Regions from separate parts of the Homo sapiens genome. Here all the other regions are linked to region 3. The links come from fine-mapping of genetic effects on gene expression. A gene starts in region 3. Each other region holds a variant in brackets. All regions are shown on one strand. Distances are between the middles of the regions.

Region 1 (8,177 bases), 63 kb before region 3:
CAGATTGGCAAATGCCTTGGGCTCAGTGTGGGTCAGAGACAAACAGGACAGCGCAGAGGGCCCAGGCCCATGACCTCTCTGAGTGTCTGTCCCCACTGCCTCAGGGAAGGACCTGGACCAGGACTTGGGGAGCTGAGGGACCACGTCATCCAGGAACCCACGCCAAACCCAGGACAAGATCTTCAATCTGCAAGGCTCATTCTTATCTCTTCATAAATGAAACTCATCCAAATTACCGTTTGTCACACACTCCCTGTGTGCTGATTACCTGGCAACACAAGACCCCGAGAGGTCACCATGGCTCCATTTACGAGGAGATTCATGGGCATACAGGGAAGTCACTGTCAGCGCAGGAAGCGCTCGGGAGGACGGTAGCAGGGGGCGGGGGCGGGGGCAGAGGCTCCCGCCGTAGGGGTGAGAGGCGGCTCAGGGCTGCGCTGCCCAGTGGAAGGTCAACAAGGCCTGGACAGGGAGGGCAGCGTCCGGCTCCTTGCCCCCACACTCTGGCCTCGTCTCTGAAGCTGCCGTTTCAGACCCTTCCCAGCCAACTCGGCCAGGACCCTGCTTTCTCTCTCTCCACAGGCCCCTCTCTTGGTTCTTTTCCCTTTGTTACTCATCCCACCCACCTGGCCCTCAGAAACTTTTAGGACATTCCCTGAGCCAGTCCGAGGTCACCTCATCCCCGTCCAGAGCAGAGACACTGCCAGGGGCCCCTATGGGAGCTTTGGGAAGTTCACATTCAATGTCCAGCCCCCCTCTGATGGGGATGGCCCAGCCATGGGACCCTGGGGGACACCTGCACCAGGCACAGACTGGCTGGGAAGAGGCTCTGTGGCCAAATGGGGGGTGGCTGGCTCTTCAGCTACTCTACACAGTCGAATCTGAATTATTATTAGTAGTAGTAGTAGTATTTTTGAGATGGAGTCTCGCTCTTGTTGCCCAGGCCGGAGTGCAGTGGCACAATCTTGGCTCACTGCAACCTCCGCCTCCCGGCTTCAAGCGATTCTCCTGCCTCAGCCTCCCGAGTAGCTGGGATTACAGGCGCCCGCCACCACGCCCGGCTGATTTTTGTATTTTTAGTAGAGATGAGGTTTCACCATGTTGGCCGGGCTGGTCTCGAACTCCTGACCTCAGGTGATCCACCCGCCTCAGCCTCCTAAAGTGCTGGGATTACAGGCATGAGCCACAGTGCCCGGCCCAAATCTGAGTTATTTTCACTCCCTTTCTTGCAAAACACTACTCCCCTTCATCAAGGGAAACTGTTTTTGTTCCCTTGAATCGCATACATGGAGAGGATTTCAGATTTCAGGTATGTTCTCTTTCTCACAAAACCTGGTGTGGAGACTTTCAAGCTGTCAGGGACATCATGTTGAGAGGTGCTGGGGCGGTGGGGGCAGGCACTGAGCTGGTGAGGCCTCTGTGCTTCTTGGGTGAGCTAGTGTTTCCTATCACGTGTTGGGGGGCAGAAGCCGTGTGTGCCAGTGACATGAGAAACATGGCCAGGACCAGAAGTCCCCTCCAGGGACAGTGGGCAGGGCAAGGGGAGCATTCACCTCTTGACTCCCATGCTGGAACCTCCGCAAGACTTTTATGACCAGTTATAAAGCTGTGGCAAAGGGATTTACCACCAAGCGCCTGATGTGACTTAATTTTAAATAGCGCAGGCAGGAGATATCATAAAAAGGACTCCTGTTCCACCAGGCTCCCCAAATCACAGCTCATGCATGCTGACGAAATCCCATCCCTCAGCATGACCTGACACATCCATTCCAGTTTCTGCTTTGATATGCATCTGTTTAAATATGCTAGGCAATTACAAGTGCAGTTAAAGTTTATGGCTGGGAAGGAACCCTGTAAAACGGAGGGTTCAGTAGTCAGGTTCCCTCTGCCATGGAGCCTCTAGGACCTTCCTCTATCCTGCAAATGCTGAAGTGTTTCTGAAAGTCACAGTCTCCACTCGGCTGCAGAACTCTTGTTTTTTTTTAAAGCTCAGTTGACAGCACATTAGAAAGGAAAACCATTTTTCCTGGTTAATTTGAAAAATGCTGATCTTGATTTTAATCATTTGCAAATGCAGCACGATTCACTTATAATATCCCTGCCAGCAGGATCCTTGCCAAATCCATAAAGGTGTTGCACTTATATGATCATAGGCAAATTCCTGGATTCTCAGGGGCAAAATGCTTTTTATCCACCTCAGCATTTAGTGTGCGACCTTCATAGTACTAACAACCAAAATTTTGCATTGTTAATTTAGCATTCATTACAGTTTTATTGTAAAAATTAAATAAATAAACAAGCCACAGCCTATTACACCAAACAGCTGGTGGGCCCATCCCCGTCTGAAGGATGTGATGTTGGTCAATTAGGCTCCTCCAGTGTGGCCGGGTGTTTGGGCACAGCTGGAGCAAACTACCAGGAGGAGCAACCCAATCTCAGGCCAAGTTGCCCCTCCCCGGGCGTGAGGTCTGGCTGCTCTTGGCCCAGCAGGTAACACAACGAGGGCAACCTGCTTCCTGCGGGCATAGTAGGGCCCCGTCCCGACCGAGCCGGCCCCTAACCCTGGGCAACAAGGTGTCCAGAGCCATCATTTCCACTCTGCTCACCTGCTGGGGAACCCACTGCCCATTTTGCCAGATGTCAGCTCTGAAAGTACCTCGGTCCTGGGCAAAATGGCCAGTGGGTCACCTGGTCTGAGTCTGTAGCAAAGCATTCCCCCCACCTAAAAGTGGGCAGTGCAGGGGACCCGTTCCCTATTGGGAGAATAAGCTTGTAAGGACACAAACCCCCACCAAGTAGGATAACACACAGAGTCAGGGTTCACCTATAAGCCCCACAAAGACACACGAGCCCCCACCCTGCCCCAGTGAGAAGAGCAATAGAGGAGAATCTTTTCTCCTCAAGGACTTGGGTCACTTAAGGCCCAAGATGTCCTCTTTCCTTCACCCAACAGTGTCTGGCTCCCAGTTTAGATCCTCCTGGCTCTCTCAATCTACCAGCTCTCTGCACAGGTGTGTGGGTGGATGGACACATGGGATTTGGAGCTTCAACATTGTTCTAACCACCTTCTCCTCCTTGACTCCTGCATCTCACCTTTCCTGCCAGACAAATTCTGCAGGTTGCAAGGCCCTGGGGCCCACTCCCAGGTGGCCCTAAGACATAGGTAGAAGGGTGCTCTGCCTCTCCCAGCCCCGTCAAATACTCCAGACCTGAAAAGCCCAGAAAATCTGGCACCCATGCCCTCCACGCGACATCCAGGGCTCCTATCTTCACAGGTATCAACGTGTAGCGTATGAGAGCTTCCATAAAAATGAAAGAAACGAAAGTTGGCGTTGGTCAGTTAGGTGACCCGTTGTATTAATGAAAAGGGAATCTAGTAGGAGTTTTTTTACATTATAAAACACACGAAAATCTCAATTCCGCAATGCAATGAAAGAGCCAGCATGGCCCAACGTACTTCATCAGCTCGGGGTCCTCCTTGTCGTCCTTGGTGGGTGCCACCTTGACTCCACTTTTCTTTGCACGAGGGCAGCCGGACAAGCTGATTTCGAAAGAGGAAAAAAGGCCACCTTAGTGCTGGAACCGCAGCTTCTCACACCCGTTCATCTCACCCTCTCCCCTCAAGCTCTGTGACCCCAGGGTGGGGTGGGAGGGAGTGAGGGCAACCGATGGGTCAGTTGTAAGAAGCAGAATCCACAGACACAGCCTTCACACGAGGCAGCAGGGTCGGGAAGGAGAAGCATTACCACGAGCCCCTAGCCCTGACCCCTTGTCTTTTTATCTTACTGCAGAGGACAACTTAATCAGGTTCTGGAAATGGCAACAATTCAGATTAAAGAGATGGGAATGGACTCTAGCTGTCAGCAACATTAGTGTCTTCTAATCTTCATATAAGGAAGAGACTCCCTGCCCACCCCTGGGGCCCAGGACCTGAGGGTGTGGCAGGCTCACCTCCGGTGTGAAGCGTAGTTCCCTGTGATGTGGCCAGAGCCGTCACAGCCGGGCGTGGGGCACCTGCAGAGGGAAGCAGAACTGGAACGGGAGCCCGTGAAGGCGTTTAGCCCCGGCCCAGAGCCCTGGGACCCCCA[G/C]AGGAAAGCCTTCTGGGCTCAGCCCTTGAGTGCGCCCACCCACATTCCCTTGTCCGCAGAGGAGCATCGCCGATGTTCACCCCGGCTGCCGACTGCCAGCAACAGGGGTCTGATGCGATCATCTCAGGGGTTCAGTGCTTTGCTCCCCCGTCTCCCCGAGGGAGACCAGGAAGTCTGAGAGGAGAGCAGCCAACTGCTGCTCCAGCATCGGTTTACACCCAGACACCAAACCTGGGCACTGGGACAGGCCTACAGGGTCCACTGCAGCCAAGGACACGAAGGGCTCCCAGCTTGGACTTCTGTAGGGTCCGGTCTGGACTAAAGGCATTCAGAGCATATCTGAGCCATAACTTGAAGCACAGCCTAAGACCAGTTCATCTTCTTGGATGGGCTGGGAGCTTGCCCTCACAAAGCGTGGCCACCATGGGCTGGTAAATGAACAGAGGCCTTTTTGCACACCTGCTGCAGAGCAGATGGCGCTGGCCATGCCAGGCCTGGCTGTTGTATAGCATGACTGCAGAGTTCACACAGCCAGTGGCTTACAGCAGAGAGTAAGGAGGAGAAACACAAAAGTCCAACTTTACACACCCAAAACTATTTGACGAATGTATCACATAAGGTGGTACAAAATTCCACTTTAATATTACAAGCACGGATGTTATTTTCTTCCGAATGTCCACTGAGGAAAAAATATGTGAGTTCCTGCTGATGTTAGAGAGTGGGAGGAGGTGACCTGATTCTGCGGGTAGATCCATCCCCCGTCAGGCCTGCTCTCTGTGCCTCACCCCTCCTGACCCCTGACCCTGCAGGAGCCAGGCAAGAGTTCAGTGCTTGTGTCCAGATCACCTGCTGCTCAAAGGCACTTTGCAGTGGTGCTCAGACCCCAGGGAGGACGTCTCACTTTCCATGCTGCTGGCCCTTCCTCACCGGAGTCTTCCACCAGCACATGTGACATCCGGCCACTGGGACAGGACATCTCCTCGCTTGGAGGAAGATGAAGCCGGGCACAGCCTGGCACCCAAAGGGCTGTGGCGGCACAGCAGGGCTGGCCCCACCTCTTGCAACCTTCTCTTCGGCCCCTAGGAGTTTTTTTGGGGTGCCCTCCTGGGGAGCCTCACATTCCTTCATCCTTGCCCTGTGGGCCACACATTGGATACCTTGCTGGCCAGCCAAGAGAACTGAAGATGGCCTGCCTCTCCTTCCTGGGTTGGCAGCTGTTCAAGTGGCCACTTGGGGCTCCAGCTCCTTGTCTCAGTGGCAGCAAAGCATCAGGTAGAGCTCAGGTTCAGTGCGGTGGGCAAGTGGCCACTCAGGTGGCCAGAGTGACAGACCCACAGCAGCTCTAGGCCTCAACGGGGATAAGCACAGCATTGGACTGTGAGTGGCATCAACAGCAGAGGAGATACTTCCCGATGGCATCTGTGAGTGAGTCTCAGGTGGGGGTATAACTCCCAAGGGGCCGGCAGTACCTAACACACAGGGGGGGCCATCCTGCAGTCCTCACTAAGGCCCGATTCAATGGCTTTTCTCAAGAGTTGTGTCCCAGAGAGGAAAGTACTCACATAGTCAGAGGAGCAGGTGTCCCCTCTGCATGCCCCTCATGGCTCTGTGGACCCCCAGGGTCAGCTGCAGGAATCTGGAGCCACATCCACCCCTCCCACCACCTGCTTCTGAGTGCCCCATCTGGGCAGAAGGGAACACCGTGTCTGAGGGGCACCCTCTACCTTGGCAATACACACCAGGTCTCACCTCTCTAAGCCCCATCCCCGTGCTGTGGACAGGCATTCTTCACCCTGCACAAAGCCTGTCATGCCCTGGCAGGTGTGTGTGGTTGCAGCTCAACTCCCAACACAAGATGAGCTGAGTGGCCCGAGGCGGCCATGTCCTCACAGCCCTTGACCACATCAGACACATGGGAGGGAAGAGTGAACGCCCTTGGGATTCACTTAAAACACAGAACACACATCATCTGACTGTCGCTGCAGCCAGGTGCGGACAGGGAAGTCATGAAAGGAACCTCGTTTGTCCCAAGGCCACCGTCACCCATGGCTGCCACGAGGCTGATCAGGAGGGGCCAGTGCCCGATGCCGCCTCACACAGGAGGTGGCAGAGAGCAAGGAGGTTGGTACACCAGGACACGTGGCGGGGGGAGACCACCATCGTCCCAAGCTCATGCAGTGGTCGGAGGGAGGAAAGGAAGTGGCCTCCCATGGAAAGGCCCCTGGGGGAGAGTGGAGTTTCTGAAGGAGCCTGGAGGCCGTGGCTGCCTGCCCAAACCCTGCTGATGCTGATGAGCGGTTCACTTTCACACAGGGGAGGCTTTTGGTCGTTATTTCTAAAGAAGTTTGGCGTTAAGGTTCTTCACAGGCTCTTAGTCTTAAAAAAGCACTAACTCTCCCAGACGGCCATGTCTCCAGGCCCGAACTGTGCCAAGCTCCTTTCATCCGCCCAAGCATCCACTTCACAGGACAGAAAGGACATGGTGACATTTGGGGCCACTGAGTGCCTGCAGCCACATTTCTCCTCTTAAATTATTCAGGCCCAAATGGGAAAAACCATGGAGACTAATCACGGAAAAGAAAGCAGAATTGGAAAAGGAAAAAGGAATGCAAGAAAGATGGCAAGAGAAGAAGGAAAGAGGGAGAGAGGACAGTCCCAGAAGCTGCAGGACTGAGTGTTTCCTGGGTTTCTAGGACTAGACAAAGTGGGCGGCAGAATGAATGAATAAGTCAATGTGTGCAGCTGCTGTGGTGATCTCAGCCTCAGAAAATGCTTATGTTGAAGCTATTAACTTCCAGGAAGGAAACTTAGATGCTGCACCCCACTCTGTGGGAACTGAAGGGCCTCATGACACACTCCTCCTGGCTGCTGGGGCCAGACCAGCCTCCAGAGGGGAACAGAGACAAGGCTGCTGGTGGGGGCTCTGGGAGACCTAGAGCTTTCTGTCCAGGTCTGAGCCAGCCAAGGTCCCTAGAAGCCTTCAGCAAGTTCATTTCCTCATCTTAGAGGCACCAGTGCCCAGGATCCTGTCTGGCCCCAGAATGGAATAAGCCAGGGTGTGTTGACCTGGATTCAGGGCCCCCAACACAGAGGCCTATGGGAGGGAGGGACACCCCTGGAGAGAGGTGACCTGAGGAGACAAGAATGGGACCCCCTTCCTCCAAGGCCTCAGCTCGGCCCCGGTGCCCAGGAGGAGCTCCCCATGGCTCAGGGTCACACAGGCTGAGGAGTCACAGCACAACTGGAGGCATGAAAACCAAAGGCAGTAACAGTCCCTGACTCCAGCCCCAGGAGGACACTGACCCCTGGAAACCTCTGGGTGCTTGCGCCTGGTTGTGCAGGACTGTCCAGCAAGCTATAGCTGGTGCCTGCAGGGCCTGCCCTGCCCATGTGTTAGGTAGGGGCAGGGAGGTACAGAAGCAGAAACGGGTGAGCCCAGCAAAGAGAAGGCATGAGCATGGGGGGAGGGCATCAGGGCCAAGGCAGAAGCAGCTGGAGCGTGACAGGAGAGGGGAGGGGAAGGAGCTTTCTCTTCATTATCAGCGTTCAGTTCATTTAGCAAGAGCCGCACAGCCTGTGGCCTGCCGAGCCACGGCAGGGCTTACGTTCCCTGGTCGGTTCTGGGCTTTTCCCAAATCTCTAGGGCAGTAAGAAAGCAGGCCCAGACAGCCCTGTCGGGGATCTTCAGGAGAGGCTGGAGGGTGGGGGATGGGTCAAGAGCAGCGCAGGAGCCTGCAGCGACCCCTAGCCCCCAGCGGAGAGGCAAACAGCAGAGCTCAGAGCAGGTGCACACAGGCAGAGCAGCCCCAGCCAAGCAGAATCGGCCCCTCCACGGCCCTGCCCCTCTGCCCATCTCAGGAGAGCTGGGGCCAGCTGAGGCTTGGCACCTTGGAGAAGGCTGATTTTGGCAGGAGCCTCATGGAAGGAGAGCAAAGCGAGGGTGCCGCCCAAGAGACAGGAGGTCAGGGAGCGCAAACATACTTGAGGTCAGCAGAGTGGGCAGCCATGAGGTTTCTGAGGCTCTTGTCAGCAAGAGGGCAACCAGAGAGGCTGAAAGAGAAGAGATGGGATATTGGGGTAAGCCAAAGA
Region 2 (8,177 bases), 45 kb before region 3:
CTTCCCCTCCATGCCTGTCCTGTCCTGGGTGTCTGTGTGTGTGGGTGTCTCACGGCAAGGTCATTCAGATGTGAGAACTCCAGGTGAACTCCAGAGAAGCCCAGAGCCGGGAATAACCCTGTCATTCTGCAGGACAGGGGTTTTCTCTCTGGCTCTGTTCTTGAGCCCTCACAGTACAAGCTGCCCAGTCAGTTTCTGTTTTGGAACATTCTATGCCAAGGACACACAAAGATGAAATATATCCTAAAGGCCTTGAAAGCTCTGGGCAAAGATGCCTCCTCTGCATGGGTCTGGGAGACAGGCTTGCCCTCACCCCCTTCCTCTCCCTTCCCAGCTTGCAGGGCTGGATTCTGCAGCCCTCTCTGGCGCTTGTTCTGTTAGCTGCTCTGGGGCAGCCCAGGGCCCCACTTGGACCACAGCCTGGGCACTGACCCTGGATGACACAGGCCCAGGAAAGTACTCAGTCTAAGACACGGAGGCAGCAGCTTCATCTGTCAGAATAAAGTTAACTGTGAGCTCCAGCGCCAGTCCCTCAGCCAGCCCAGGGAGGTGACGTAATGGGGAACTGGCCTCTTTTCAAATGAAGTGACCTCAAAAGCTCTGGCAGTCCTTTCAGCTGAGCATAAGCCTGCTGGGGGAAAGCATATCCCACCGAGGCCACGGCCACCCATGGCACTTAGGGTAAGGCTGGAGGAGTAGTCCCCCCTCACCATAGAAGACCAGTCAACAACTACACCTCGAGGGTGGTCGGGAAGCTTCACTTCCACCTGGGCCTCAGAACTCCCACAAAGCAGCCCAGAGCACAGTCCTGGCCTGCCGAGGTTACTGTTCATGTCTGCCCTTCCCACTCAGGAGCAAGAGCCAGTGTGCAGAGGTTTTCTGAATGTGGGTAGGACACAAAGTATTCACCTGGCTCTCACATGGTTGTTGTACCTCTCTTCACAGAGGGTGCATTGCTCCCTCCTCTGCAGGCCGCCCCCTGCTCTCTCGGGAGCTCGTAGGGTTAAGGCAGCAACACCACTGGGTGACTGCACCTCCAGTTGCCACTCTGCCCTCACAAAGGCCCCTCACCGCCCAGGTGTGCCCTGACCTTGTACCCACTCCTCAGGGCGGCAGGCTGGGAGAAGGGTAGCACACAGGGAGCCCCAGGCAGGCCAGAGCCCCGTCCCAGGTCACGGGCTCACGGCCCAGGCAGGGACACACAGGCCCAACCCAGGTGCCCTACCCCACGTGGAGCCCCCCACCACGGCCCCCACCCTGGCCCCCACCACGGCCCCCACCCTGGCCCCCACCACGGCCCCCACCCTGGCCCCCACCACGGCCCCCACCCTGGCCCCCACTACGGCCCAGCTCAGTCCAAGTACCTTCTGTGCGTGTTGCGGTTGCTGTTCACGTGACCCTGGCCTGTGCAGCCAGGAGTGGGGCACTTCAGCACGTTCTCATGCATGGCTAAGACTGTAAGAGAACAGGGGGTGGAGGGAGCCGAGGCTGTCAGAGAATCTGGGGAGCGCCAGCTGTGTGGGGAGCACAGGCTGAGGAGGGTGCAGGAGCCTTGTCCAAAGGCTGCTGCTTGGTAGGCAGGTGGGGGACACAGCAACGCAGGGCAGCTCCAGCCCCCAAGAGCCTGCAGACACAACTCCCCACCCTCAGCCTGGTCAGGGCATGCCCCCCACCGCCACCACCACTGTGGTCCCTCCCTCCTGCGGCAGAAACCAGACTCAGCTTTAAAACCTCTCATTCTGTGGTTTGCTCCTTTAAATTTAATTTTCACAATTACTGCTTCTAGCCTAAACATAAGAACAAGTATTTGCTTCCTAAGCTTTCAGGGCACAGAGGTTGCTGCAAGAAGACCTCTCCCTTCCCAGCTTGGATGGCACTAGCCTGTCCCCCTCCCATCGATCTGTTACTGTGGGCTCTGACCCGGACTGGCGTCTCTAGGTAGACAAATGGGCTGGTTGCAGGGCCCCAGCCTCAAAGGGCTCAAGTTTGGGCTGAGGGAGTTTGTGGGGGAAAGCGGGGAGATGTAAGGATGAGCATCTGGACAAACCAAAGGGGAAGGTTATGGCCCTGGGCAGGCCACGCCTCCCCATAGACACCACCCAAACACCACAGAGGCAGCGTGAGCTTCACAGTTAGGGCTAACGCTGCACAGAGCTACTCACTCTCTGGGGGGATCCTATCCTTGTGGGGACAGCCAGAAAGGCTGCGGTGGTGAGGGTACAACCCGGTAACGTGGCCAGTGCCATCACAGCCTGGTGTTGGACACTTGATCTCACGCTTCTCAGCTCTTGAAGGATCTAAAACACACAAGTCACATCAGTTAGAGCCAGGAAGCTGGGTGGTGAGCAGAGAGGGGGCAGGGGTAGCTCAGGAACCCTCTCTCTGGCTGTCCAGAGAGAAGGGAGGCGAGACTGCCCATGAGCTTGAACAGGGACTGGGGCTGGACAGTCAGGAGACCCTGAAGAAACCAGCCCACACTGGCTGCCTGTGCGGAAGCCCTGAGGCTGCCCTGACAATCCCAAATAGCAGTTTGTGCAGCGTTTTAAGGAGAACAACCCAGACGGCCGCTGGAGTCCTCTTTCCTCTCTCCTCTGACAGTGTGGAGGCCTCATGGGTCAGCCTTCTGCCTAGAGAGGTCAAGGCGTTTGGCAATATTCCTGCCAGGAGATATCCTTGGGATTTGACAAAACGAGGAAGACAAAGGAGTTGAGTAACTTATCCAAGGCTGCATGACTAATCTATGCCTGGGCAGAAATGTAAACCCAAATCTCAGTTATCGACCTCTTCTAGCCTCTGCAGGTCCAGGCCGGTCACTATAGAGTATAGGGACCAGCAGGAACACGGAGGACCCTCAGAGCAGAGCTGACATCTCAGTGAAACACCTTTGGACGAGAGCTGTCCCCTTTGGGAGGGTGCAGAGGTCACAGAGCCAAACTCAGAACTCCCACCTCAGAGCAGGAGGGTCCCAGGAGGGGGCTCCAAAGGGAAGGAGCTCTTGCTCTGCTGCCCCAAGTTCAAAGGAGTCAGACTTCCACCCATGTGGACAGGCAGGGGTGTCCTGAGGGGCTTCCAAACCCGTGCCCAACACCGGCCTCCTGGGCTTGCCACCCCTGTCCCACGGCCTCTGTCCAGAATTCTCGCAGCATCTGTGCCCCAACATCAGTCCCTCAGAACCAGAACCGCACGTTCACGTTGCACAGACACTCACAGCCCAGCTGGGCACTGCCTGGTGTTCTCAGCTTGGCCACCTGTGTCACCCGGGGCCGTGTCCCTTTGGGTCCATGCACTGAAAATCTATCCCTGAAGGCAGGATGCCTTGCATCTGGGTCCTCCTATGTCTGTCCCACAGGTCTGAGACCCTCAAAAACCTGGGCCTAGGGCTGTCACTTGGTGTCTGTGTTCCTCATATGTGTCCCACCAAATTCTGCGCTGATCTGTGCGGCCCAAGCACACCACAGCCAGGCTAGTAACCACCCCGGGCCCTTGACACCTGTCCCTAAGTCTCACCTTCAGCCTGTGTCTCTTTGTGCCCATGGCCCCACAAGGCCGGAGCATGACACTGCCGACCTAAATCTGGGTCCCCAAAGAGCTGTCCCGCCATCTGGGTTGCCCTAAAGGGTGTCCCCGCAAAGCCATTCTTTGGGTCCATCTCACCCTGAAACCATGTCCCCACCTGTGTCCCCTTAGCATCTTTCCCCTGAGCTTGTCTCATATGCCTGGTGTTCCCGGAAAACATGTCCCTCGTGTCTCCACTGACCTGCCTATCATGCCCCTTGAATTATGTCTCACTCAGGTCTGTCTCTCCCATGACCCAAGTGCATCTTCCCAGGGTTGGCAATTCCGTGTCTCCTGCATTTTTGGTTCGTGGCTCCAGCACCTGAGTCATCTCCCATCCCAGTTCTCTCTCCTTATCTGCTCCCTCCCTGGTCTCAGCTAACTCTTCCTGGGGGCACTCATTGGAAGAGCACCAAGAACTCCCACTGCCCCCGTCCACCTGGAGAAGA[G/C]ATGCAGGACTAGACATGGGGAAAAAAGAGGCCGAGATCAGGGCAGGTCCCTAGTCTTAGGAGAATAGAGGCCAAGTGCCCAGGTGCAGGAGGCCCTCCGCACCAGGCCGGCTGGGTCAAAGCTGACCTGTCCAAGGCCTGGCCTCCCTGGCATGGCTCACTGAGGGAGCAGCCCCTGGCCAGCCCTGCTCCCCAGACCCCTGTCCCAGGAGGAATCTGAGATGGGCAGTCAGCAGAGCAGAGCCAGCCTGTTGTCCAGACCCTGACACCCCAGTAACAATGAAGGCCGTAACCGTTTACTCAGGATTCGTCCTCAGACCTCAGCACTCCAGGCTCCCAGCTGCTCCCCAACCACATCAGCTGCTTCCCAGCTGCTCCCCAACCACGTCAGCCCAGCCCCAGGCCCCTCCAAGCAGCCCTCCTTGTCTATCCTCACCTCAACATCAGCCACTCCGTGCGATCAGGGGATGGCTCCCCTGTACCCTGCACACTTTAGAGCCAAATCCAGAGACAGATGCAGAGCCAGCGGCAGGCTGCTCCCTCTGAGGAGCAAGGGCACCCCTCACATCTGCCTGCTGGTCTCCACCCCACGAGAGGATCAGGATGACCCAGCATGGCTGTAGGAAACAGCGGGTTCTGTCATAGCACAATCCCTGCCACGAGTGTGAGTTGGGGTGGAAGGGACAGGACGGTCCCCACCCTCTCCAGACCCCAGATGCTGCTGTGACCAGTCACTGTGGGTGGGTCACTGTCCCTCCCACCTCCTCTCTCCCACCTGGTTCTTTCTCACACGTCTCCGCTGTGTCTCGCTCCAGATCGCTCTATGTAAAGCAGTGTGGGAACCCATTTGCTCAGTATCTGACCACAGTCTGTGTCATGTATTTGTCCTTTTGTCTGCTTTTCTGCCATCCCCCAGCCCCCTGTCCTAGAAGGGCTCTCAGCCTGCATCTGCACACCTGGGGCAGGGGTGAAAGGATGAGTCTGCAGGGCCAGGCCACCCCTGAGCCCTACCTTTACTGTAGTAACTCTTCCGCACAGTGTCCAGGGGCTTTGCTGCCTTCCCTGGCTCTCCCAGGCCCAGCTGGCTCTGCTCGGCAGGCGGGCAGCCCGGCTCGCAGACTGTGCGCACCTGTTCAGCCTTCAGGGCGATGGCCTGCTCCAGGAGGCCCAGGTTTCCCCGGGTCATCATGTCCTGCATCTCCGACTCGTCAGTGACTGTTGACTTCCGGGAGTGGGTGTCCTCGTCCTTGTCATCATCCGAGCGGACCTCCACAATAACAGAGTACTCAGGCTTGGGACTGGGTGATTCTGGGCCCCGGAGCTCAGGGGCCTTCTGGGCAGAGGTGTGAGAGGTGTCTTCCTGAAAGATCACATCAGGAGCTGCCTCCTCCTCCTCCTCTTCCTCTTCCTCTTCCTCCTCCTCTTCCTCTTCCTCCTCCTCCTCTTCCTCTTCCTCCTCCTCTTCCTCTTCCTCTTCTTCATCCTCCTCCTCCTCCTCTTCCTCCTCCTCCTCCTCCTCGTCCTCCTCTTCGTGACTCAGGATGCCTTTCTGCTTGCTGGACTCCTCACTGGCTGCATCCTCCAGGGACTGGGGACACAGGTCCTGGGAGCGCTCGGTGGTGACTTCGACGACCTCCTCGGCATCCTCTGGCTGGATGAAGAGGCCCTTTTCACCCTCCTCGCTGGCAGCTCCCTCTGCAGCCTCCTGAAGCAGGTGCACAATGCCAGGACCTGGCTTGGCCGCCTGGCCCAAGTCCTCTTCCACCAGGGTCTCTTCAGCAATTTGACCCAAGTTCAGGAGAGAAGTTGCGATGATTCCCTGGTAGCTGCTGTAGCTGCCCTTGGAGGAGGCAGTGGCGCTGCCGATGGGGTTGGATCCAAAATGGGACTTGACGGGGCTCCTTCCTGCACAAAATCAAAATCAACGTGGGGGCCAGAGAGCACGTGGGAAGACTCCAGGTCTCCAGTCCCCAACACACCCACCACCCCTCCACCTGACCTACCACTCACTCTTTATACGGGAGCCAAGGGGAAACATGAAACTCCAGAAGTGGGGATTTGGTATGGACCTTTCTGTCAACCCTTCTGCCTGAATCCAGAAATCACGGTGAATATATTTTAGGAGGCAGGTCATGGGCCACTGATGTATTTTTTAAACTAAGAATTACTTTGATACTTTTTCTTAATGTTCCTCTCCCATCACGTTTACTTTCCCAAATCAGATAAACCTGCATTGTATACAATGGAGCTTAAGCAGCAAGTCAGATTTTAAAAAAATAATAATAATTGTTTCATAATTGAAAATCAGTAAATAAGAATGGGCTCGGTGGCTCATGCCTGTAATCCCAGGACTTTGGGAGGCCGAGGCGGGCGGATCACCTGAGGTCACGAGTTCAAGACCAGCCTGGTCAACATGGCGAAACCCTGTCTCTACTAAAAATACAAAAATGAGCTGGGCGTGGTGGTGCACACCTGTAGTCCCAGCTATTCCTTGAACCAAGGAGGAGGAGATTGCAGTAAATCAAGATCGTGCCCCTGCACTCCAGCCTGGGCAACAGAGTGAGACTCTCTCAAAACAAAAACAAAACGAAACTAAGATATGGTAGGTGCTCACCACATGCAGGCCCCGTAGGGTTGTCAGCAAGGACACCTGGGCCAGCACGTCCCACAGTGGTAGGAATGGGCCCTGCCATCCACCTACTTCGGAGGGGAAAGTCCAAGCCCAGGTTGACAGCTGAACCCCAGACGCCCTTCTTGATAAGAAAGCAGGAAAATGTGTGTCTTTTCTACCTGGGATCTAGGACTATGTTGATTCCACGGGACAGCGCACTCACTCCAGAGCCCCCCAAGGGAGCTGGGGTTGAGGACCCTCTCTGGCTTTGCTTCTGAAATCCATCTCAGACCCTTCCCCACTGCAGAAGCTTGGGGAGTGCTGGGTGAGTGGTGGGGATGGTGGGGGGAGTGGACCTTGGGCCTCATCTGACCCCAGGTCTCTACAGATCTGCCAGGGCTCTCAGGGGCACAGACCCCTCCCTCCGGGACCCAGGGGCCAAAGCACCTGCTTCATGCACTTTTGCCAAGGGCTAGGAGCTCCAACATGGCAGTCCTGGTAGACCCCACAAGGAAGTGGGGGACTCGTCTGCTTTCCTCCTTCCCCTCTTGGCCTCCCCGGGCACCCCGTCTTCAGAGGCTCCATCTGGTCCTCAATCACCTGAAGCTCAACCTGAGGTGTTTCCTCAGCATCTGCCTGTGAGTACCTCAGGGGAACGCAGACCTCTCACCCATGCCCCCAGGCAGGTCTCCCAGAGGGCCAGGCAGAACAGAGGGCCAGTCTAAGATCCTCCCTTCCCCACTTACAGACACACAGAGACACAGCCTTGTCTGTCTCTCTCATATACATGCAGACACACCTGCCAAAACACACTACAACTGCACACACACACACCAGCCCCGTGTCTCTGTCTGTCCTGCCTCTCTCCTACGCACACAGTGTTCACACACAAACACACCACAGGCCCCATAAACACCATGGGCAGACCTCTCTCCCAGGAAGCCCAGCACATGTTGGGACAAGACATGCCTTGTTCTCAGGAAGGGCTTTCTCTTGCCCGGAGTGAGCCCCTCCCCGCTCACAGGCTGCAATTCTCCAGGGCCACACTAAGCGCCCTTTATTCGGGGAAGAAAGAGCGACAAAGCACCTTCAGCTGTCTCGGGGCGATGAATCTCGTCCTGTCCTGACGTCTCAGCCTCGGCCCCCTCCAGAGTTCCTTCCGATTCATCCGAAACAGAGGCGTCCTTCACCTCAGTGTCCTCACTGCCGTCGCTGTCCACACCATAGCCCTCGTCCAGAGCCAGCTTCAGGGGGTGTGACTTCCTCTTGGACACCAGGTGCTCAGCCTCAGCGCCCTCCAGCTTCCTCTTCTTGGCCAGGGGGCAGCTCTGTAAACTGGGAGGGAGGAGTAGGCAGTGGAGAGGACCAGGCTAGGGCCACGAGAGGCCTCAGACACCCCATGAGCCCCTCCCGAGGGTCCTCCCTCCCTCCCTTCCCCACAGACTCATCCAGTCCTTGCAGGGAACCCGGACAAAAAAAGCAAAGTGCAGCACTAGGGGGTCAGATGGTCTGTCTTCGCCCACATGGCACGCCCATGGCCACACGGACCTCCATGCTAGAGT
Region 3 (8,177 bases):
GTCAGCAGCTCAGGCCATATGGTGCCTCCACCTTTCCTCCCGAGCATCCAGATCCCCAGTGCTCACCCCCACCTTGCCTGGCCACCCTGACTCCTGCAGAGCGCTGCAGCCTACTTCCTGAGGACCATCCAACCTGCACCCTCCTGGCACAGGCCGTGCTCCCAGGCCACAGTCCCAAATAAACCCCAAGGCACAGGGAACATATCCAATCAACTCCAAGCAACCCCAGGGCAAACCACACACTCAGTTGCCAGAGCACAAAGTCACTCTCTTGAAGGTTGGGGCTGCTGAGTGGAGGCTTCCGGTGCTGCAGGACAAGGGGTGGCAGGAGGACCACAGACACCCACAGCTGTGTCGACATCCTCTCTCCTCTGCAAGGCCTGGACTCCAATCCTGGCCAAGGCAGATGTACTCAGCCAGGGCAGATTAAAGCACGCTGAGTTACTTTCGTTCCCGATTAAAATAACATTGCATTTTTAAGTGCAAATTGTAAAATAAAAAAAAGGATGAAGTGATGGGTGAAACCAATCTTCCCACAAGGAACGCTCCTAATGGCATTAACCCTGGGGAGAAAAGACTCCACACTTGTATCTGGTTAGTTCCAGTAACACTGAAGAGAAACAGGAAGACATTTTCAAACTACACTTTCCACTTGCAAGTATCCATTAATCTCTTCTCTCTGAAGCTGGCTCCGTGGAAGCCTGAGATCAAAAACATTTTAATTCCGGTGAAATTCCTCTTGCTCATTTTTGTTTTGAGTTTTTTAAAGTGATGTTTGGGGAAATTTGGTCTGAAAGACAGAAAAATGCCGGGAACCTCAAGAGGCCGTGAAAGCACATTCCACCCCCCAGGCCTCCAGCAGACACTCCGGGCTGGGCAGTGGGCTCCCCAGTGGGGCTGTCCTGGAGCGGGGATGGGTCCCGCAGTCCCCAAAGAGCAGGAAGCCCACGGGGGAGCAGCACGGCAGCCACTGCTCTCTTCCCTTCTGGGAAACACGGCGTTTCTCGGTCTGACTAATCTAATGATGCTGGTTCCCAAAGACCATTTTCCTGTAAACTCACACCACAACATTCCTGTTAAAATTACATCTGTAGACAACTAACTTCTGGTTTATTCATGAGGGAGTTCACACGGAAAATGCAGAGGGGGAGGATCTAAGATGAGGAAGATGGGAGAGAGGAAGAAAGAGAAGAGCCCCCCCAGCCCCTGCGGGCACCCTGCTCCACTCTCCCGCCCAGGTTCCTACAAGAGAACAGGCAACAAAAGAGGGGCTCTGAGATGTGTCTTCCAGCATTGGGACAGGCAGAGCATCCACTCTTCAAGATGCCTGAGTAACATGAAAGTCTGGCTGACCGTCCAGTACCCTGCCTGCTCGCAGATCAGGTGACCGCCAGCAGCCCCCACCCACCCCACAGCTAACCTCCTGACCCCTGTTCCACCAGCTGGGTCAGTTCTCTACCTCCTCATCTACTCCAGGCCCGGTGCTGACCAAAGTGTTCTGGTTGTTCCCGGTCTCATCCCCACCCTGAGCCCCGACAGAGGGACTGGGTGGACACAAGCCTTGCTCAGTCTTTTCCAAAGTAGACGCACCTTTTGCACTGAGTCCGTCCAGGAAGAGCTCAGCCCCCACCAGCCCGCCCACTGCCACCGAGCAGCGGCTGGAGGCCCCGGGTTTCTCTCTGGCACTTTGTCAGTCTTCAGGAACCTCTCCTGCTCTCTCTGCACAGTACTGGGTTGTGCAAACTGGCATTCCAAGCGGCCCAGACATCACCAGACTGAGCAGCACCAGGAAGACAGTTAGTCAGGCTCTGACCCCTGTCTCCCCAGTGCAGAGTGGTGTGGGTCTCCTCTACCCACCACACCACCACAAATGTCATTGTCTGCACATTCAGTGACCCCAGGCCAGAGAGGAAGGGAGTGAGTCTCTGAGCAGCACCAGGGAGAGCGCCCACCACATCCACAGCAGGGACAGGCCAAGCTCCAGCCACCATCCAGGCTGCCGTTGGTCAGCTGCCAGAGCTGCCCAGCATGCACCCCCGTGGCCGCATACCCTCTGCCAGCCTCTCCCTGACATCTCCGGCACTAACAGAGCTTCCAAGTAGAGGCTGCTGCAACCCCCAGACCAGAGCAACTTTGCATCCCACATGGCTAGAAGGGGTCATCTCAGAGAGTGTTTCCCCACTCATGCACCAGGGGCATTCAAGGGAGTAGGTGACCACTGCCTTTGCCAGAATCTTCCAAGAGGGGCCAGAGCATTAGCTCTGAACAACTGAGGCTACCTCCAGATCTGTGGGCAATGGCTGAGGGTCACAAAAACCCTCGAGTGGCACTTTGGACAGAAGCAGCCCCCCTGCCTCGGGTCTCTGAAGAGGGCTACCAGGCCCTCTTCAGGGATTCATGGCCCAAGGAGGTCAGAGCCGAGGCTGTTCCAGAGCAGAAAGGCCTCTTTGTCCAACTCTCTGTGGCTCCTGCTCAAGCTCCTGGATCAGCAAGTACCCCTGGGAAGTTCGGCAAACGTCCAGGTGCCCAGGGGGTCGGGGGGACCCTGTAGGAGTCTCAGTCTCTACGGGACAGAAGAATCCATAAGACTGCCTCCTTCTCTTTGAAAACAAACTGCCCTCTAAGCCCTGACCCAGCCTCCTCTGCACAAGGAACAGCTACCGAGGGAGACAGGGCAGGGTCCTGCCTCTACTGATAGCAGCACCCTGGCTGGTACCACAGGACTCCAATCCCTGCTCTCTTACTCTTTTGTTTACCGTTAATTAACAGGGCCATATGGAAGGAGGCGATAATCACAGCCAAGGACCAATGGGAGGGGAGCCCGGGGTGGCAGGGAGGCTGGGGGCCGAGGGGAGCCTCCCTCAGTCAGCCCTGTAGAGGATACAGCACCCCCACTCCCCAGGCCAGAGTGAGGCCAGGACAGGCTCTGCTGGCACCTCAGAGGAGACAGAGGCAGAGCATACCCCTCAGCACCGAGTGGGCCCCCCCAGGTCTGCCCCACATCCCTCCCACCTTTTGTGCACTCAGCCACTGGCGTTAGAGGTGTCCTCAGTTTTCTGTGATTTAAAAGAAAAAAAAAAACTGCAAGGGCAAAATTCTCCACCGACCTCTCCCAAAAGGATAATTATAATCATCGCTGCCATTATCATCATCGTGACAGAGTCCATGCCCAGGACCAAACCCACCTGCAGCCACGGAACCCCCCGCACCACCGCAAATGTTTGGTTTCCAAAATTAAACACCCAACTTTACCAGCCAATGGTGTCCACTGATTCAAAGGTGATGCTGAGACAAGCAAAGCCCTTGGTGACTCAGGAGGAGCAGTGAGAACCCACCACTCCAACACAAAGCCACCAGCACTTGTTTATTTTCCTGGTTTATAGAGAAGAAAGTGAATTCAATAGACAGAACCAAAGTCCACGGCCCCAGAACTACAGACAATGGCATTAGGGTGTTCAACTTCTTAGCTAACCCTGATTTTTAGTTTTAAATACAAAAATCCAGTTACACTACCACCATAAACAACCACACTCCACAGCTGCACGGACACGTAGCGAAAAAAGGGGCTGAGAGGAGCGGCCGATATTTACTTCTGCACATCTATCCCACAGACGCATGCACCCTAGATATTGATCCTTAAGTTGAGAAATGCATGACATGCAGACAAAACGTTCACGTGAGCACCTCTCCTCAGTACCTTGGGTGGGGGTCACACATGACACACCCCAGACTCTGAGACCCTGCTTCAGAGAGGTCTTCTGCTTAAGCGGCCAGTGCTCTCCCCAGGTACGGGGCTGCTGGGTCCCACGGCCACAGACATATCCGTTGTTCCTCTTCCAGAAATGCGCATAAAGTTTCTGGTTTTGATATGCGCTCCCCTTCCCCTAATGTCTCCTCTGTCAGACGCACAACATGTCCCCTGGAATCTCAGAGGAGCATGAACAACAGAGAGACAGGAGAAAAACAGCACACGGCAGGCCAGGGAGGAGAAGAAAGCCCCCGTCCTCCAGAGCAGTTTCAAAAAGCCATCCTCAGACCTGCTTTTCCTGCAAACAGAGCCTTCATCTTAGAAATTAACTCTGCCCGCGCGCCCTCTCCCTGTCTCTGTCCAAGAGGAAAAGCCAAGCGTTGGGTATCTGCCTTTGTCAGAAAGAACGTAACGTTGACTTACCTTTCCCCACAGCTATTGTCTGTCCTCTTTCAAAATGACATCACGGAAAGCAATCATGAAATTTACATGGGGGGTGCAGGGTGGACTGGGGGAGGAGAGGGAAGGCAGCTGCCTCCCGTACAGCGGTCACATGTGGGGAAGCCTGCGTGCGGGTTTCAATTAAATATCTTCTCCCCTTAGTGTGCGAACTCCTAAGCCAGCTAAAGGCGACGTCTCATTTACTTAATGACTGCTCTCATTAGCAGCGGTGGCACGGGCTGGCGGAGGAGGCTCCTTTGTAAATACGCTACCCATGAACCCTTGGGGCTCCAATATATCTGTTTACTCTCTGAGGTGAAATAAATTTACAGTATAGCATCAGAAAGATGGATCTGCTGAATTGGGGGTGAGAGGTGTCCCAGTCCGGTGGAGTCCTGTGTCCTGCTCTGAGCCTCGGCCAACAGAAGGTGCCTATGTTTGTCCACACTGATTCATACTCAATGTGCAGCATGATTGAGTTTTTTTAAAAAGCAAAACACACAAAAGGGCAGAGAGCATCACAACCACCACATTCACCCCCCTCTGCTTTCTCTGCCAGTGGTTCAGTCCAATAATTCCTAATAGCAGCAACCGGAATGACAGATGCCCCGGGTTAGCATGGCTACAGCGAAAGTACTTTACAATATTTATTGGTGGTGAGGAATATGATCTACCATCATAAAGAGCGGGCTGCAGAATTTATTACTCAAATGAACCAGGAATATTACATATCGGCTCATCTGCATATTCAAGTACCCCTGACTTAAATGGATATGTATTTTTTAACGGCATAAAAGGTAACTATAGCCACAGACCAAAAAATAGAGTCATGCACACAAAGAATAGATCAGGAAAAGACATTTTTCTGTTCTCACACTTTCCCTTTTCACTTTAATTTTTACAATAATAAAAACCTTCCCAAAGAGAACTCAGGGATTCCTGGGCATGGGAACCCCCCCACAAAAAGACTAAGTTTATTGCAACCAGAGCGAAGCACACTGCCCAAGTTTTCTGCTCTTTTCCTGATTCTTTTATAAACGGCCTGAAAGGAGCTATCCAGTGAAAATCAAGAAGAGAAAAATCCATAACACACACAATAGAAGTGCTCACCCACTCTCTATGCAGCCTGACTGTCTGCCTTCTCATCTGCCAGTTTGTGATATTTTCCCCCACATTCAGGGATAAAGTGGGAATTTCTTCAGTAAGAGAACTCAAGAGCCAGAGTATTCTTGTTTGCGGCCCAAATCTCCTTCTTGTACTGATAAATCAGGCAAACGATTGTCCATTATCATAATCAGGATGTTAGAAATGAAACTGTGAAACACAAGGGTGAAAACTCAATGTGAGACGCCTGCAAAGATGCCGCCGTCCAAGGGCAGCTGGAGAAGCAGAAAACTCACATCTCAGAAGTTCAGTGCAGAGATTTCAACAGACAGTAAACATCATTTCTTGGTAAATTATGCAAGAGCACAATACCCCAACTTAATTAGCGCTAAAGGGCTCGGGCCACCAAAAGTGTGACTGAGGCAGAACTGAACACAGCTTTCTCTAAGAGAGCATGTTTTGAAAATCTTAGTGGCTTATTTTTAACATACAGTTTGTGCTTTACACGTTACATACAAACCAAAAGCTTCACCCCAAAGGCAAGTATCTTAGATTCTTATACGCACACATTATCCTCAACAAATAAAACACAAAATGCACACAGAGCAATTGTTCAGATTGAGCACAAGGACATAAATGCAAGCCTGCACTGGTCAAACTGAGGATGAAATATTAATTAGTCAAATGAGAACAGTTCGAGGTTTCCACAATGACTGCCTACCATTTTTAATTTCTGTCATAAACTTATATCCATTAGTATAAAAGGACACATTCAGCTGAGAGCACTCCTGAAAAGCCGTTTCTGTCTCCTCTGGACATGCTGTGAGTGCTAGGATGTCTTACACCCCAAACCTTCGGCATTCAGAAATTCTATTAAACTCTTATCGGCAGGCTGCAGGCTCCGGGCAGGCTTGCGGGCCATTGTTCCATGATGAATACAGAATCAAAGGGAGGGCCGTTGCTGAATCAGCCTTATTTCCCAACGACACCCAAGGTTTCATGAAAGCGACTTAATTCAGATATGCAACAGTCACACCTAAGAAACCACAGCGAAGCGGAGGTGGCAGCAGGAGAGATGAACCTGCGCAACACGGGCTTCGTGGGGCACAACAGTTTTTTCAGGTAATAGAAATTGTATTTGTGAAAACGTAAGTCTTTCGGCATTTCTCACTTCCCCTTTTGAACAATCACAGGCCTCCTGAGGTGTGGCGCTCCGGGGGTCGGGAATGGGCCCCCAGACCCTCTGTGGCGCTGCCAGGAGGAGCATTCAGAATGTGCCTGGAAACTTGAAATCGGTGCCTGCTGGCAGGACCTAGGGCGCCCTGGGAGCTCCCACCGGGAGGTTAAAGTGCTATGAGCAGTTTCCGAAGATGAGCTTTGATGAGTAAAGGTTCGAAGTCTTTAGCTGACCCCGTCAAGACAAAGGAGTCCAGGGAAAAGAGCAGGACAGAAGAGCGGCCGCCGGCACGTCTCTCCGGTTCGGCTGCCGCCCTTCAGCCCCTGGGAGGCGGCCTGAGCGGTGGGTGGATCCGAAGTCTGATCAGCACTTCGGACAGCGCTCTCCCCCCAGAGCGCCTCAGTCTTTGTTCTCCGCACACGGAAGCTTCTGAGCTCGCACCAGTATTCAGCTATCGCTGAACTCTGGGCTCCGGGCTGAGACAGAGAATTCCAAACCCCAACAGATCCCTGCTTGTAAGTGACAACAGCAAGGTATAGTCTTAAGCTTCCTTTCTTAGAGAGGGTGAAAATTTGTCAGGACTTTTTGAAATCATAAAATATTTTCTCTTCCATAACTGAGCATGTTGCACGCTGTTCCTTTGGGTTTTATTTCATAAAAGTCTGTGGGAAAGTCACATGTGACTTTTTAATAATATGTTTGGAAAGATCCACCAGGAAATAACTCCTGTCTGACTGGCGGGTCCTCAGACTCCACACGGGGAGGGAAACGGGAGATTTGCAAAACCAAACTTACGCCGCAGCCGCACTCGCTGAGAAAGCGCTTTGTGTGAGTGGGGGAGCAGGCTTAATGATCGCTTAGCTGGTAAGATCATTTCAAATAAAGTGTAATTACTTGTGCAAATCTGCACACAGACATTCCAAGTGTCAGTTCATTTGCTTCATAAAAACTCTTTCAAGTAATTTTGGTCTAAACTTTCTGCATCTGTAATTGGCACCACCTTCTCCGGTGACCAGCTGGGGGTGAGGGTTTTCTTGTTTCCTTCTGAAAGCTTCCCCGCAGATGGGCGCCTGCCTTAATGCTGCAGACGACAATTAGGGCCGTTGTGTGAGGCCGAGATGGTGAGCATTAATATTGTATAGAACAGCTGAGGGCGGGGGTGCTGCCCCAGGCCGGCCCTGGCAGATGGAGCAAACAAAACCGGGATCCACTCTCCGCCACACTCGGGGCTGACTTTGTGTTTCTGTCTCACACTCACGCAGACGCTCACAAACATTTGGCATCCAGTTTGTGAGACCCTCACATACATATGCACACTCACACACGTGCACTCACACACACAGCAACTTTGAGTGTGATGAGGACGCAAGCAGCAGCGGCCCTGGCCAAAGCCCCTTAGCTACAGTTAAGTCCCAGGGGACATCTGTCGCGCGCACGCGCGCGCGCACACACATTCTCTCTGCCACCTTCTCACAGAGTCTCACAGAGCCTTGCTCCAGGCCAAGGGCTCCTGACACCCACCAGCTATATGGCCTGCCAGGCAGATCCAGGCAGGTAAATCAACAGAAAGAAGGCCCAGCTGGCCTCTGCACACACCCTGCCCACCGCCCTCCCACCTCCAACCTTCTGCAGGGCAGCGTTCACAGGGCTCTGTGCCGTCAGCACTTCTGCAAGCCACGGGATCCGCTAGAAGGGGAGGTGGCTGTT

Which allele goes with the higher level. Alleles are on the strand shown, and positions count from the first base shown. SD is a standard deviation of normalised expression in the study named. Not every link is listed here.
For the expression in thyroid of the gene that starts at base 4,459 in region 3, allele G in region 2 goes with a higher level than allele C (small effect, 0.39 SD a copy in GTEx).

Evidence for each region. PIP is the estimated chance that this variant, and not a neighbour inherited with it, causes the effect.
Region 1: its variant is fine-mapped to the expression of MYT1 in thyroid (GTEx, PIP above 0.99).
Region 2: its variant is fine-mapped to the expression of MYT1 in thyroid (GTEx, PIP above 0.99).

The regions. Positions count from the first base shown.
Region 1 is chr20:64,223,252-64,231,428 of GRCh38, reverse strand. MYT1 (myelin transcription factor 1) reads right to left here. Exons shown (of 23, transcript NM_004535.3): 16 at 8,070-8,138; 17 at 3,952-4,014; 18 at 3,458-3,541. Among named protein-coding and RNA genes, the nearest start is that of PCMTD2, 28 kb to the left of the region's middle. RefSeq lists enhancers at 4,590-5,089, 7,036-7,891. The variant G/C (reference allele first, on the strand shown) is at 4,089.
Region 2 is chr20:64,205,326-64,213,502 of GRCh38, reverse strand. It overlaps MYT1 (myelin transcription factor 1), which reads right to left. Exons shown (of 23, transcript NM_004535.3): 6 at 7,703-7,950; 7 at 5,016-5,909; 8 at 2,163-2,297; 9 at 1,365-1,455. Among named protein-coding and RNA genes, the nearest start is that of MYT1, 45 kb to the right of the region's middle. RefSeq lists an enhancer at 1,664-2,163. The variant G/C (reference allele first, on the strand shown) is at 4,005.
Region 3 is chr20:64,160,734-64,168,910 of GRCh38, reverse strand. It overlaps MYT1 (myelin transcription factor 1), which reads right to left and starts at 4,459. Exons shown (of 23, transcript NM_004535.3): 1 at 4,172-4,459. RefSeq lists an enhancer at 6,101-7,581.